2 linked regions of the Homo sapiens genome follow. The protein of the gene in region 1 interacts with the protein of each later gene in a biochemical or structural test. Each region holds a gene or a part of one and is shown on either strand. Other genes may lie near its edges.

Region 1 (5,194 bases):
TGTAATCCCAGCACTTGGGGAGGCTGAGGCGGGCGGATCACCTGAGGTCGGGAGTTTGAGACCAGCCTGACCAATATGGAGAAACCCTGTCTCTCCTAAAAATACAAAATTAGCCGGGCATGGTGGCGCATGCCTGTAATCCCAGCTACTCGGGAGGCTGAGGCAGGAGAAGCGCTTGAACCCGGGAGGCGGAGGTTGTGGTGAGCCGAGATCGTGCCATTGCACTCCAGCCTGGGCAATAAGAGTGAACTCCGTCTCAAAAAAAAAAAAAAGAATAAAACAAGGGAAAGCTTTCAACAACAGACCTGGCTTTAAAAAAAAAAAATTAAGCCATGTAACATACATACAGTAAAGTATACAAATCTGAATTTGATGAATTTTTATACATGTGTCCCCCCATGTCACACACACATGGCCATACTCACACACTCACATTTGTAACTACCATCCAGGTCAAGATACAATTCATTTTCAACACCGCAGCAGGCCCCCTTGTTCCTCCTTCTGGTCAGAACTTACAGCTTTCCTCACCTCTACCCTCCTGGAGCCTGCTATTTGGACTTCTATCATTATGATTAATTTTGCCTAGGCTTGAATATAAATGGACTCACATAGCATGATTTCTTTTGTGTCAGACTTTATTCACTCATTGATATATTTGTGAGATGCATTCTTGTTGCCTGCGGTAATAGTAGTTCTTTTTCACTGCTTTGTCATTTTCTACTGTATGAATATACCAAGTTAGAAATTTGACTTTTTGTCAGTTAATGACTATTGTGAATTAAAATGCATTGGTCATCTTTTATAAGCCTTTTGCTGGACGTATACACTCATTTTTCTTGGATATATGTTAGGTTGGACCACTAGAAGTTGCCTTTTTGTTGTTTTGGGAGACAGTCTTGTTACCTAGGCTGGAGTGCAAGGGTGCGATCTCGGCTCACCACCACCTCCACCTCCTGGGTTCAAGCGATTCTCCTGCCTCAGCCTCCCGAGTAGCTGGGATTACAGGCATGCGCCAACACGCCTAGCTAATTTTGTATTTTTAATAGAGATGGGGTTTCTCCACGTTGGTCAGGCTGGTCTCGAACTTCTGACCCCAGGTGATCTGCCCGCCTTGGCCTCCCACAGTACTGGGATTACAGGCGTGAGTCAGTGTGCCCAGCCTAGAAGTTACCATTTTGTTGGTCCAAAATAGTTATTAGTGGTTTCATATAATTCATCCTGTACCTAGAAGTAGAATTGCTGGATCAAAGGGTAGTTGTATGTTCAGCTTTAGAAGATAGGTATTTATAAACATTTTTTTGGTGTGCCCTGCCAGCTGTGTGTGAGAGTTCCATTTTCCCCACATTTTCACCAAATACTTGGTATTGTCAGTCTTTTAAATTTAAGCCATTCTGGCTGTACAGAGCTCATTTATGTACTAATGTTTACATTTTACCTCACAGAAAATAGATGCACAAGCTATTGAAGAATTCTACGGGTTGACATCAGATATCTCAAAGAACTCTGAGTCTGGTTACATCCTTTTCTATCAGTCTCGGGACTGAGAGGGAACCGTGATGAAGAGACACTTTCTGCCTCATTTCTTCTCTGGTTATTTTGGAAAGGATCAAGCACTGATTTTTCAAGAAAAGAGAAATGCAGGAAGCTCAGGGGGCAGTAGCACACTTTGCACACGATAAAGCAAAGACGATGGATTGACAAGCCCTTCCGATCATGGTAGTTGATTTATTTGCTCAGGTATCATGCTGTCTGTACAGTTCCATACAACAAGGAGGTGAAATCAGAGATACCAGCTCCTCTTTTAAAACAGCCTTCCAGTCATTGGCACGCATTTTCTCTTTATTAATTGCACCAATAATGCTTTGAATTCCTTGGGGGTGCAGTAGAAAGAATCGGAATCTGTGCCGTATTGATAAGGAGATGATGTTGAACACACTGCATAAATTTGCCTGGTTCAGTATGTATAGAAGCATATTCAGTGGTCTTTTCAAGAGTAAACCAGAAATACTTTTGGGCCCAACACTTGCAGTTGCCTTCCTGATGTAAAAACTAACATGCTAGATAATCCAGTGTCGGGAAGACAAAGATGTTTTGCTTCTCTGAAGAAGCTTATAATAATATACAGTATATGTATATGTAGGGAGCAATTGGTCAAAAGTGGCTTTTTGTTTCCCCAAGGGGAAAGACTGGCTTTGTAATTATAATTTTTTCCTTATTTATTTTACTTAAAACTGGTAGAGTCTAAGTATTATATGAAGTGCCCATGATTCTGTCAGTAAATTTGAACATATTTTTATTAGTTAATGTCAGTTTAAGTTGTCCTTTTGTTTGTTTCTATTTTTAAGGTGAATTTTAATTTCTATCTGAAATCAGTTAAGATACCTTGAGAAAAACTGCAGTGAGAGGAGATAAATATCCTTTTTCAGGAGGAACTGATATCTCTGGCTAAATATTTGTCCTTTTATTATGGTTTCTAAATCAGTTATTTTCTTCAGCTTTAATTTCATAAAATTAAAAAACTATTTTAAAAATTCCTGTAGTTGTTGGAATAATTAAAAATTCTGGTGCAGTGGTGGTATACCAATCTTTAGAATTCTTAAGTATTCTAATGTTTCAAGTTGAGATCATGCTTGGGAAAATCATGTCATAGCATTTATGTTATTTTCAGATGCCATTTTTTACCCTGGAAAGAAGTCATAATGTTCATCATAACCCTAGCAGCCTGGATAGTGAGCTAAACAAACCCTTCAAAGATTAAATTTTAATCAAGTAGACCGGGAATACAAAAGACAAGTCCTTCCTTCCCTTCCCCCCACCTTTACAAATCTTACTGGAAGGGTGTTCAGAAATTAAAATCTGTGTTTGCTAAGACTTCATTCTGTTGGGGGTTTTAAGAAGTAATATATGTAACATAAAATATATGTAAACGATTGCAGTTTTTTTGGACGTTTTTCCATGCATCAGTAAGTTGTCTGACAGTAGCCAAATGTAACTTGCAGAAAATTATTGAAAATTATATTCAGAATAATAGCAATCAGGCCTTGGATGTTCTTTATTAAACTCTTTTCAGGCAGTAAATTTAAAAAAAATTGTCATTTTCTAAAGTCCTTTTGCTAAAACTGTTGACTATGGAAAACAACAAAAAGGAATTTTTTAGTCTGCTGCTATTATTAACATTTATTATCTGTATCTTTTGGCTCAGGAAATGACTTCACCTATTTTTTCCATAAGCAGACCTTTAACAGAGTCACTTAATTGGGCTGCTTAAACAGATGTTCTGGGAGAAAATTATAATATTTAGTATTTGTACAAAATATCAAAAAGTATTTTGACAAGTTTCTTTTTAAGATAGTTCCTAAAGCCTTACCCTGGCTAGAGGTGTTTTGTACAAATTATATATAAGCCAGCCTGATCTACCAACATGCCACAGAGAATCACAATCAACAGTGTGGGGAAAGTCAGGGCAGTGGAAGTGGATGCACTCTTTTTATTTTGAAGGCTTAAACCAAATTGTCTTGGAATTAAAGCTGTATTTCTGCAGCTTTCGGTACAGAGAAAAAGAGGAAAGTGAAGCTGTGTCAGTTTTAACATTAGCTATATCAACATGTTTAAGAAAGATAGATGAAGTCATTTGCATAAAGGTACAGCATTGAAATACTATGTTGTGTTTGTTTTTACATTTTTGCATTAAAAAAAAACATGCCGTAAAAGCCAAGTTAAATTTCATATTAAAGCAAGTTCTAGTGTATGTGTTGAGTTCCTGGTAATCACATACTTGTTCACATCTACACCGTACTTCATAGTATGATTTGTCAGGGGAGGGATTGTGGGGTGACAGTTTTACATTTACTTTTTCTTCTTAATGCAGCTGGATCTAAGTAAAATGTTTTGAAGTTTATCAGAAACTAAATGTACTTTTAAAACGTATAGGGTCAGGGTTGGGGGAAAAATACAGGTATAGTAAGTAAGAAAAGTGACCCATGAAGAAAGCATCGTGAGGTTGTATGTTGGTTGACTGTGATTAAAATGCGGGGCTGGTGTAAGTTGTAAGTGGTGGCTGATTGCCGTGTAACTATGTACATGATTGTTGGGATGGCTGTCCCATATTTTGTATATTGGAATAAAAATTTCTATAAATTATTGTAACTAAAAGTAAATATTCTAAATTAAGTCCCACTTCTTAAGTCACATGGCTTCTGTCTTGGAAATTTTACCTTTAAAAGATTATTTAAGACAGGAACCAGGAGGCTTGGGAACAGGGAAAGAGGGAAATGTTGTATTATGTGGGTCTTGGGGCCTCTAACCATCAGTATAGGGTTTTTTCTTTCCTTGATGGCAGTAGAAAGACCTCATTTTCATAACATAACTACTCTTGATACTTTCTTTAAAAACACTTTTTATTAAAGATTCTATCATGAGGTATTTGGCTGGGAGCTGGGAGGCTAAAGCGCTCATGTCCTGGCTCTTCAGTGAATTTAACTGTGTGACCTTGGGCAAGTCACTTAACCTCTCTGTGCTTCAGTCTCCCTGTCTTGTAAAATGGGAGTAATACCTACCTCACAGGGTTGTTGTGGGGATTAATTAGAGATAATGTCTGTAAAGCATTTAAGGTTCTTGAAGAAGGCACTATATAAATACAAAATAATATCTATTAAAGTTGGTTTATTTGTGCCTGTGGGTTTCAAGTGTGTTTTTTCCTTTTTGCCTAAAATGTATTTACAGATTAGAAGTAGACACTTTGGAAACTGTGTTACTGCTTTTGCCCAAGCTCCTACTTCTGTATCCAAAGAGATTTTCCCTAGAACAGAATTGCATGTGTGTAAAACAACATTCTACATGTGCCTGCATTTATTTAGCACATAGTAGCTTGTGTCACCTTTCTGTGATAGCATGTCTGAAAAGTTCAAAGTTTAAATTTGAACATTGAGAGTCATAGAATCTTAGAGGGTAAAATAGGTAAAATACCTTAAAGATCACTGTTTCTCCTGCTCCTCCTCCTTTCCTGTGTAGTAATTGCTCCTGTAAAATCTGTTTTCACAAGTGGTCAGTCAACCTGCACTTGAGTGCTGGAAGCCTGTTCCATTATTGAGTAACTTGAGTTGTTATTTATGTTGCCATTATTTTCAGCCCATCCTTCATTCTCCCAGTGTGCTTCTGATCTCAAGGCTGATCTTTGTATTAGATGGCTTTC
Region 2 (7,038 bases), on another chromosome or scaffold:
AAGTTGTTTATATAAATGAATCCAGCCTGAAGAGTTGAATTAGAATTGTCAGTAAAAAAAATCTTGCCTTAATTATTTCAGGACTGGAAAGGAAGGCCAACCCAGAGAGTACTACACATTGGATTCCATTTTATTTCTACTTAATAACGTGCACCTTTCTCATCCTGTTTATGTCCGACGTGCAGCTGTAAGTAGAATTCATTTTACTTATCTATCTATTTATCAGTTTTATTTTTATTTATTTAAGAGACAGGGTCTGGCCTTGTTGCCCGGGCTAGGGTGCAGTGGTGTGATCATAGCTCATTGCAGCCTCGAACTCCTAGGCTCAAGTGATCTTCCCACCTCTGCCTTCAAGTAGCCAGGACTGCAGGCCTGTGCCACCGTATCTGGCTAATTTTTTTTGTTGTTGTTAAAGATGAGGGGGTCTTGCTGTGTTGCCTAGGCTGGTCTTGAACTCCTACCCTCAGTGGATCCTCCTGCCTCGGCCTCCCGAAGTGCTGGGATTACTGGCATGAATCACTGTGCCTGGCCAATAATTCATTTTAAAACTTTTTTTTTTTTTTTGAGATAGGATCTGGCTCTGTTGCCTAAGCTGGAGTGCAGTGGTGTGATCTCGGCTTACTGTACCCTCTACTTCTCGGGCTCAAGCCAGCCTCCCACCTCAGTCTCCTGAGAAACTGGGACTATAGGCATGGCCCACCATGCCGGGCTAATTTTTGTATTAACACATTTTTTTTTTTTTTGGCTTCGTGGTAGTAGGTATCATTTGGAATGGATAGCTTCCCTCATGGGTTTCAAATCAAAAGAATGAAAGGTTTGTATGAGTGTCTCCAGGAGAGTCAAAATTAGGTGACTGTGTGACTTACACAGACTTTTTAATCTGTGATATTTTTTCATGTAAAGTGTGGGTAATGTTTATAACAAAGGAAGTTTTAAAGGGATTTATAGAGCCAGGCTTCTTAGTGCACGCTGGTAATCCCAGCTACTTGGGACTCTAAGGCGGTAGGGTTGCTTGAGCCTAGGAGATCAAGACCAGCCTGGGCAACATAGTGAGATGCCATCTCAAGAAAAAGAAAACCCGAAACGCTAAAAGTATTTATAGAGATGTTTAGAAAAACTTGTAAGCCTGTGGAAGGACCCTGTTACTTCAGAACTCTAGTTTAATCTCAAGAAAACTTTTTTTGGTTGTAAGGATTAAGATTAGCAGACATTTAAAAAAATTGTTTCTTAATCAGTTTTGTGCAGCTGTTTTAGTACTCTGGAGAAGTTCATTTGTTTTTAGTTTTGCTTGCTTTCTCAGTGTTTGAAAATTTATTACTCAGAGGAAATATTTGGAAACAACTTGAAAAGAACTAATTTCATAAACTATGATGATGAGATTCTTCATCTGTAGGGAAGTATCATTAAGACCTAAATTATAGCAGTATATTATAATTGATAAGTAAATAAGATTCAGAGTTATTTGGATAGGATAGCTGTATGACATGGAAAAGTACTATAATGCCCACATAAAATGGCCTAAAAGATATTTAATTTTTTTAAATGAGCTTTTCCCTCAGATTATTTTTGGTAGAGTTGAACATAAAATTTTTTGAAGATATAATTGAAATAATTAAATGTCTGCTTTTAATATTTGTTGCTTTTGCTTACAAGTATACACTTAAAATTAAGTATGAAATGTATTTATAAATAACTACTTTTTCCCATTTCTTATAGTTCTTAAAACAATCTTCTTAAACTTTTCTTATAGTTCTTAAAACAATTTTTTAAAATATCACTGTGTCTGTCATCACTGGAGCTGCTTTTTGAGTTACCTAACACCGTTGCTGGATCACATTAAGCTGTGTGAAACTTAACTTCTATAACTCTAACCTCCCTCCCAACTAGAAATAGTTAAGGTTTCTGGCTTATGTATCTTTCAAACAATAACTTGTTGTCTAAAGCAACTAAAAGCCAGGTGTGGTGGTGCATGCCTGTAGTCCCAGCACTTTGGGAGGCTGAGCTCAAGTGGGAGGATCACTTGAGCTCAGGAGTTCAAGACCAACCTGGGCAACATAGGGAAACTTTGTTAAAACAAAAAATAAAAAAAATTAGTCAGGCGTGGTAGTGTGCACCTATACTCCCAGCTGGCTACTCAAGGGGCTGAGGTGGGAGGATCACTTGGGCCCAGGAGGTTGAGGCTGCAGTAAGCCATGATCACACCAATGCATCTATCCTGGGTGATAGAGCAAAGACTCTGTCTCAGGGAAAAAAAAAAAATGTGTGTGTGTGTGTGTGTGTGTGTGTGATTATAGCAATTGAGAAAGTATCCCGTCACTTAGTGGGCTTTGTATTAAACCATAAGGCTTCTGCTTTCCTGAGTAAGAAATATATATTTATGTTACATATTTAAAAAAATAAAATTAGAGTGGGACTACTTGGGAAAATAAGGGGAAAAAAATAGCACCAGCTCCGTCTTTAAGGTTATTTTAACTCAGATCTTTAAAAACTAAATTAGGTAGTTCTTACAGTGTTTTGTTGGATATATTCATTTTAGTGTAACAAAGATTCAGATAGTTGGCTTAGATTTATAGATTCTGTTTTTGGGAAATGGTTGTGCATATAACTGATAGCTGTAATTGTTACTGTGGACCTTGGGACCCTTGGTTGCATAAGATTTAACTCATTTTTCATAAGTATTTGCCAGATTGAAAGAGTAGGATTCTAAAATTCCAAAATTCTATGAATTCGAGATTGTTGTCTCCTAATTACTTTGTGTTATTTGCTCTTTCCTGTGCGCAGACCACTCATTTTTTTTTTTTTTTTTTTTGAGTGCAGTGGCGTGATCTCGGCTCACTGCAACCTCCGCCTCCTGGGTTCAAGGGATTCTCCTGCCTCAGCCTCCCAAGTAGCTAGAATTACAGGCACACGCCACCATGCCTGGCTAATTTTTGTATTTTTAGTAGAGACGGGGGTTCACCACGTTAGCCAGGTTGGTCTTGATTTCCTGACCTCGCGATCCGCCCGCCTCGACCTCCCAAAGTGTTGGGATTACAGGCGTGAGCCACTGCGTCCGGCTGAGCAGACCACTCTGAAAACAGATTCCTGATCCTTAGTTCCTATTTTAGTGTGAGTAGATGTAATCTTTTTCAGTGGATTGTGATGTGTACATAACTCAGTAGTGACCAAATGATGATGTAAGTTATTAGACTTAGAAACAGTAACTTAAAATTAACTCAAATCTTTTAACTGTTTATGATATTCCATATAGACTGGTTTATTTTTATTTTTTATTTTTTTTTGAGACAGAGTCTTGCTCTGTCACCCAGGCTGGAGTGCAGTGGCAGGATCTTGGCTTGCCACAGCCTTACCCTCCCGGGCTCAAGTTGTCTTCCTCCTTCAGCCTCCTGAGTAGCTGGGAGTATAGCTGGGACTGCAGGCGCTTGCCACCATGCCTGGCTAACTTTTATATTTTTGTAGAGTTGGAGTTTTTCCATGTTGCTCAGGCTGGTCTCGAACTCCTGGGCTCCAGCAATCCACCCACTTTGGCCTCCCAGAGTGTTAGGATTACAGGCATGAACCACCATGCCTGGCCTAGGCTGGTTTAAAAGAATACAAGCACAAAAAAACTCTGCACTCAAATTTTTAAACTCATAAGGAGAAACTAAAATTTAGCTTGACCTTTTTAAAATAAAAGGTTAATTTTTAAGTGATTAAATACAGTTTATCTAAATCATTGAGGAGTCAGTGCAGAATGTTTGGTGCAGTAAATTATAATAAGTATTCAATATAAGGTCATTGGCCAAAGATACTAAAGGTTCTTGTTGTTACTTCATTGTTACACATATAAAGTGACAAAGGATTTAAACTGAAATCTGTTAGCTACCAATTTTTCTTGCACTGTTTGTTTGTGTTTCAGACTGGGTCTCGCCTCAGTCTCCTGAGTAGCTGGGATTATAGGCTTCTGCCATCACGCCCGGCTAATTTTTTTTTTTTTTTTTTTTTTGAGACAGTGTCTCACTCTGTCACCCAGGCTGGAGTACAGTGGCGTGATCTCGGCTTACTGCAACCTCTGCCGCCCAGGTTCAAGCGATTCTCTTGCCTCAGCCTCCCGAGTAGCAGGGACTGCAGGTGCCTGTCACCGCGCCTAGCTAATTTTTGTAGTTTTAGTAGAGATGGGGTTTTACCATCTTGCTCAGGCTGGTCTTGAACTCCCGACCTCATGATCCACCCGTCTCGACCTCCCAAAGTGCTGGGATTACAGGTGTGAGCCACTGCGCCCTGCCTAATTTTTGTGTTTTTAGTAGAGATGGAGTTTGACCATGTTGGCCAGGCTGGTCTTGAACTCATGACCTCAAGGGATGCGCCCGCCTTGGCCTCCCGCAGTGCTGGGATTACAGGTGTGGGCCACTGTGCCTGGTCATTGCTTTATTTCTAATGATTATTTTCTGTATATCTTCCTGGAATTTCAAAAAGAAATTTATTTATTTATTTATTTATTTATTTATTTATTTAGAGACGGAATCTCTCTATGTTGCCCAGGCCGGAGTGCAGTGGTGCAGTCTCGGCTCACTGAAACGCCTGTCTCCGCCTCCTGGGTTCCAGTGATTCTCCTGCCTCAGCTTCCTGAGCAGCTGGGATTACAAGCATGCTTCACCACACCCAGCTAATTTTTGTCTTTTTAGTAGAGACGGGGTGTTGCCATGTTGGCCAGGCTGGTCTTTAACTCCTGACCTCAGGTGATCCACCCACCTCAGCCTCCCAAAGTGCTGGGATTCTAGGTGTGAGCCACCGCGCCCAGCCAAGAAAATTATTAAAAGTAACATGTTTAATACATTTTCAGGATTTTTATTAGGTTCTTTTAGCCTAGTCATTTTGTTCAAATGTGATTTAAAATATATTGTATCAAGATATATTGGAATAAAATTCAGACATTACATGTTAATATCAAGTTGTAAGAAAATTATTAAAAGTAACTAACATGTTTAATAAATTTTCAGGATTTTTATTAGGTTCTTTTAGCCTAGTCATTTTTTACAAATGTGATTTAAAATACGTTTTTTCAAGATATGTTGGAATAAAATTCAGACATTACATGTTAATATTTATTAAGTTGTGTATCATTGTTATTCATTTCATATCTCATTTAAAATTTTGGTTTTAGACTGAAAATATTCCTGTGGTTAGAAGACCTGATCGAAAAGATCTACTTGGATATCTCAATGGTGAAGCGTGTGAGTACTTTTTAAATTGTTCCCAGTCTTAAACAGACATTGTTTCTTTTTTCCCCTATGAAATAATGATTAGAGGGAAGAGAATTTGTATTTCCACCAAAAAATTAACCTACCTTCATTTTTGTCCATGTGCTCACCTTTTTCTTATACAGTGGATGCACTGTCTTTGCCCTTATGGCCAGTCACCCCTTCCTTGTGTGTGGATTCCATCTCCTTTCACAGTCTCAAAGACTTTGTCTTCGTAAATTGTTGTTTCTCTGACATCATCAGTTTTCTACTTTCTTCTGGATCATTCCCTTTTAGAATACCTACAGTAAGATTTCATGTTTAAAAAATGTTTTTGATCCCACATTCCTACTGTCTACTGCTTCATTTATCTCCTCCCTGATACTGTAAAATATTCTGCAAGAGTTCGTGTGGTATCATTGCTTCTTTTTTACCTTTGTTTCTTTCTTGAAGCCACTCTAGTCTGGCCTTCATCCTTACCATCCCACTAAAATCACTCCTTGTAAGGTCAAAACTGATTTAAGGATTGCTACATCCTTTGGTCTCTTGTACCATACTTGACCTCTCAACAGCATTTGATACTGTTGACCACTCATTTTTGAAAGCCTTTCTTCATTTGGCATTTGGAACACCAGCCTCTTGGTTCTCTTTCTACTCGTTGTTCACCTCTCAGTTTATTTTGGTTACTTCTGTACCTGACCTCTAATTCTTGAAGTTTCCAAGACTTGATCTTTTTTTTTATCTTTTCTTTTAACCTGTATTCTCTAGGTGATCTCTTTCAGTTTTATGGCTCAGATATCATATATATGCTGATGAAATTTCAAGTGTTTTTTTCAGCATTGATTTCTTTCAGGGCACCAGATTTATAAATTTACTGTCAACATGTTTCCTTGAATGTTGAATAGGCATCTGAAATTTAACACTGAAAATGGAATGCCTGATTCCCTCTTTCCCTTCTGCCCTCACACAGAACAAAAACAAGTCTGTTGTTTTCTCAGTGTTCCCACTTTAGTAAGGGGTAGTGAGACGCTCTTCCTGCAGTTGCTTAGGCCAGAACTTTGGTGACATCTTTGTCACATCTCACATCCATTCTATCAACAAGTTGTTTTTTTCTCTTTTTAAAAGTATGACAACTTCTTACCATTCTACCTGCCCTATTTCATCCTTGCTTTTTAGATTATTGTATAGCTTCCTCACAGGTCCCCACTCTTTATTTCCTATAGTGTAGTCTTAGCAATAGAGTGTCCTGCTTTTGAAAAAGTATATAAACTTGATTGTGTCACTCACCTGTGGCTTCCCATCACTCTTAGAATAAAACTCATACTTGTTACCCTGGCAGTCATCTTGCCTCTGCCTAAATCTCTGTGACTCCATCTTCTACCATTCTTCCTTTGCTCATAACAGTCAGTCTTTTTGGTCTTTTAGCTATGCTAATCTTAGCACCTTTGCACTTTCTCTTTCTATCTTGAGTTGTCTTTCTCTACATTATCACATGGCTCACTTGCTTACTATTTCATTTAGATCTGTGCTCAAGTGTTTTTCCAAATGTTGTTCCATCAGAGAAGACTTCTCTGACCACTCTTATCGAAAATATAGTATTCCTTTCCTCCTTCTGTGGTTTTTATATAGTGCCATCCTGATTTATTTTTCACCAGATCTCATACATTGACCTGAAATTATATATCTGTTTATGTACATAGTGTCTGTCTTTCCCATTAGAAGGTAAATCCTAAGGGGACAGACAGTTGTTTGTCTTGTTAAATACCCAGCATTTACAATAGTGGTGCATGGTAGGTTCTTAACTGAATAAATGAGTAAT

What was found.
Region 2: the proteins of USP12 (region 1) and CDC73 form a complex in vitro, tested with the Homo sapiens proteins (one study listed by BioGRID).

Annotation. Positions count from the first base shown.
Region 1 is NC_000013.11:27,065,636-27,070,829, reverse strand, and holds the end of USP12 (ubiquitin carboxyl-terminal hydrolase 12), read left to right. Parts: intron 1-1,445; coding exon 1,446-1,547; 3' UTR 1,548-4,674; downstream 4,675-5,194. UniProt on the Homo sapiens protein: Deubiquitinating enzyme that plays various roles in the regulation of the immune response and inflammation.
Region 2 is NC_000001.11:193,125,031-193,132,068, forward strand, and holds part of CDC73 (parafibromin), read left to right. Parts: intron 1-81; coding exon 82-187; intron 188-5,143; coding exon 5,144-5,213; intron 5,214-7,038.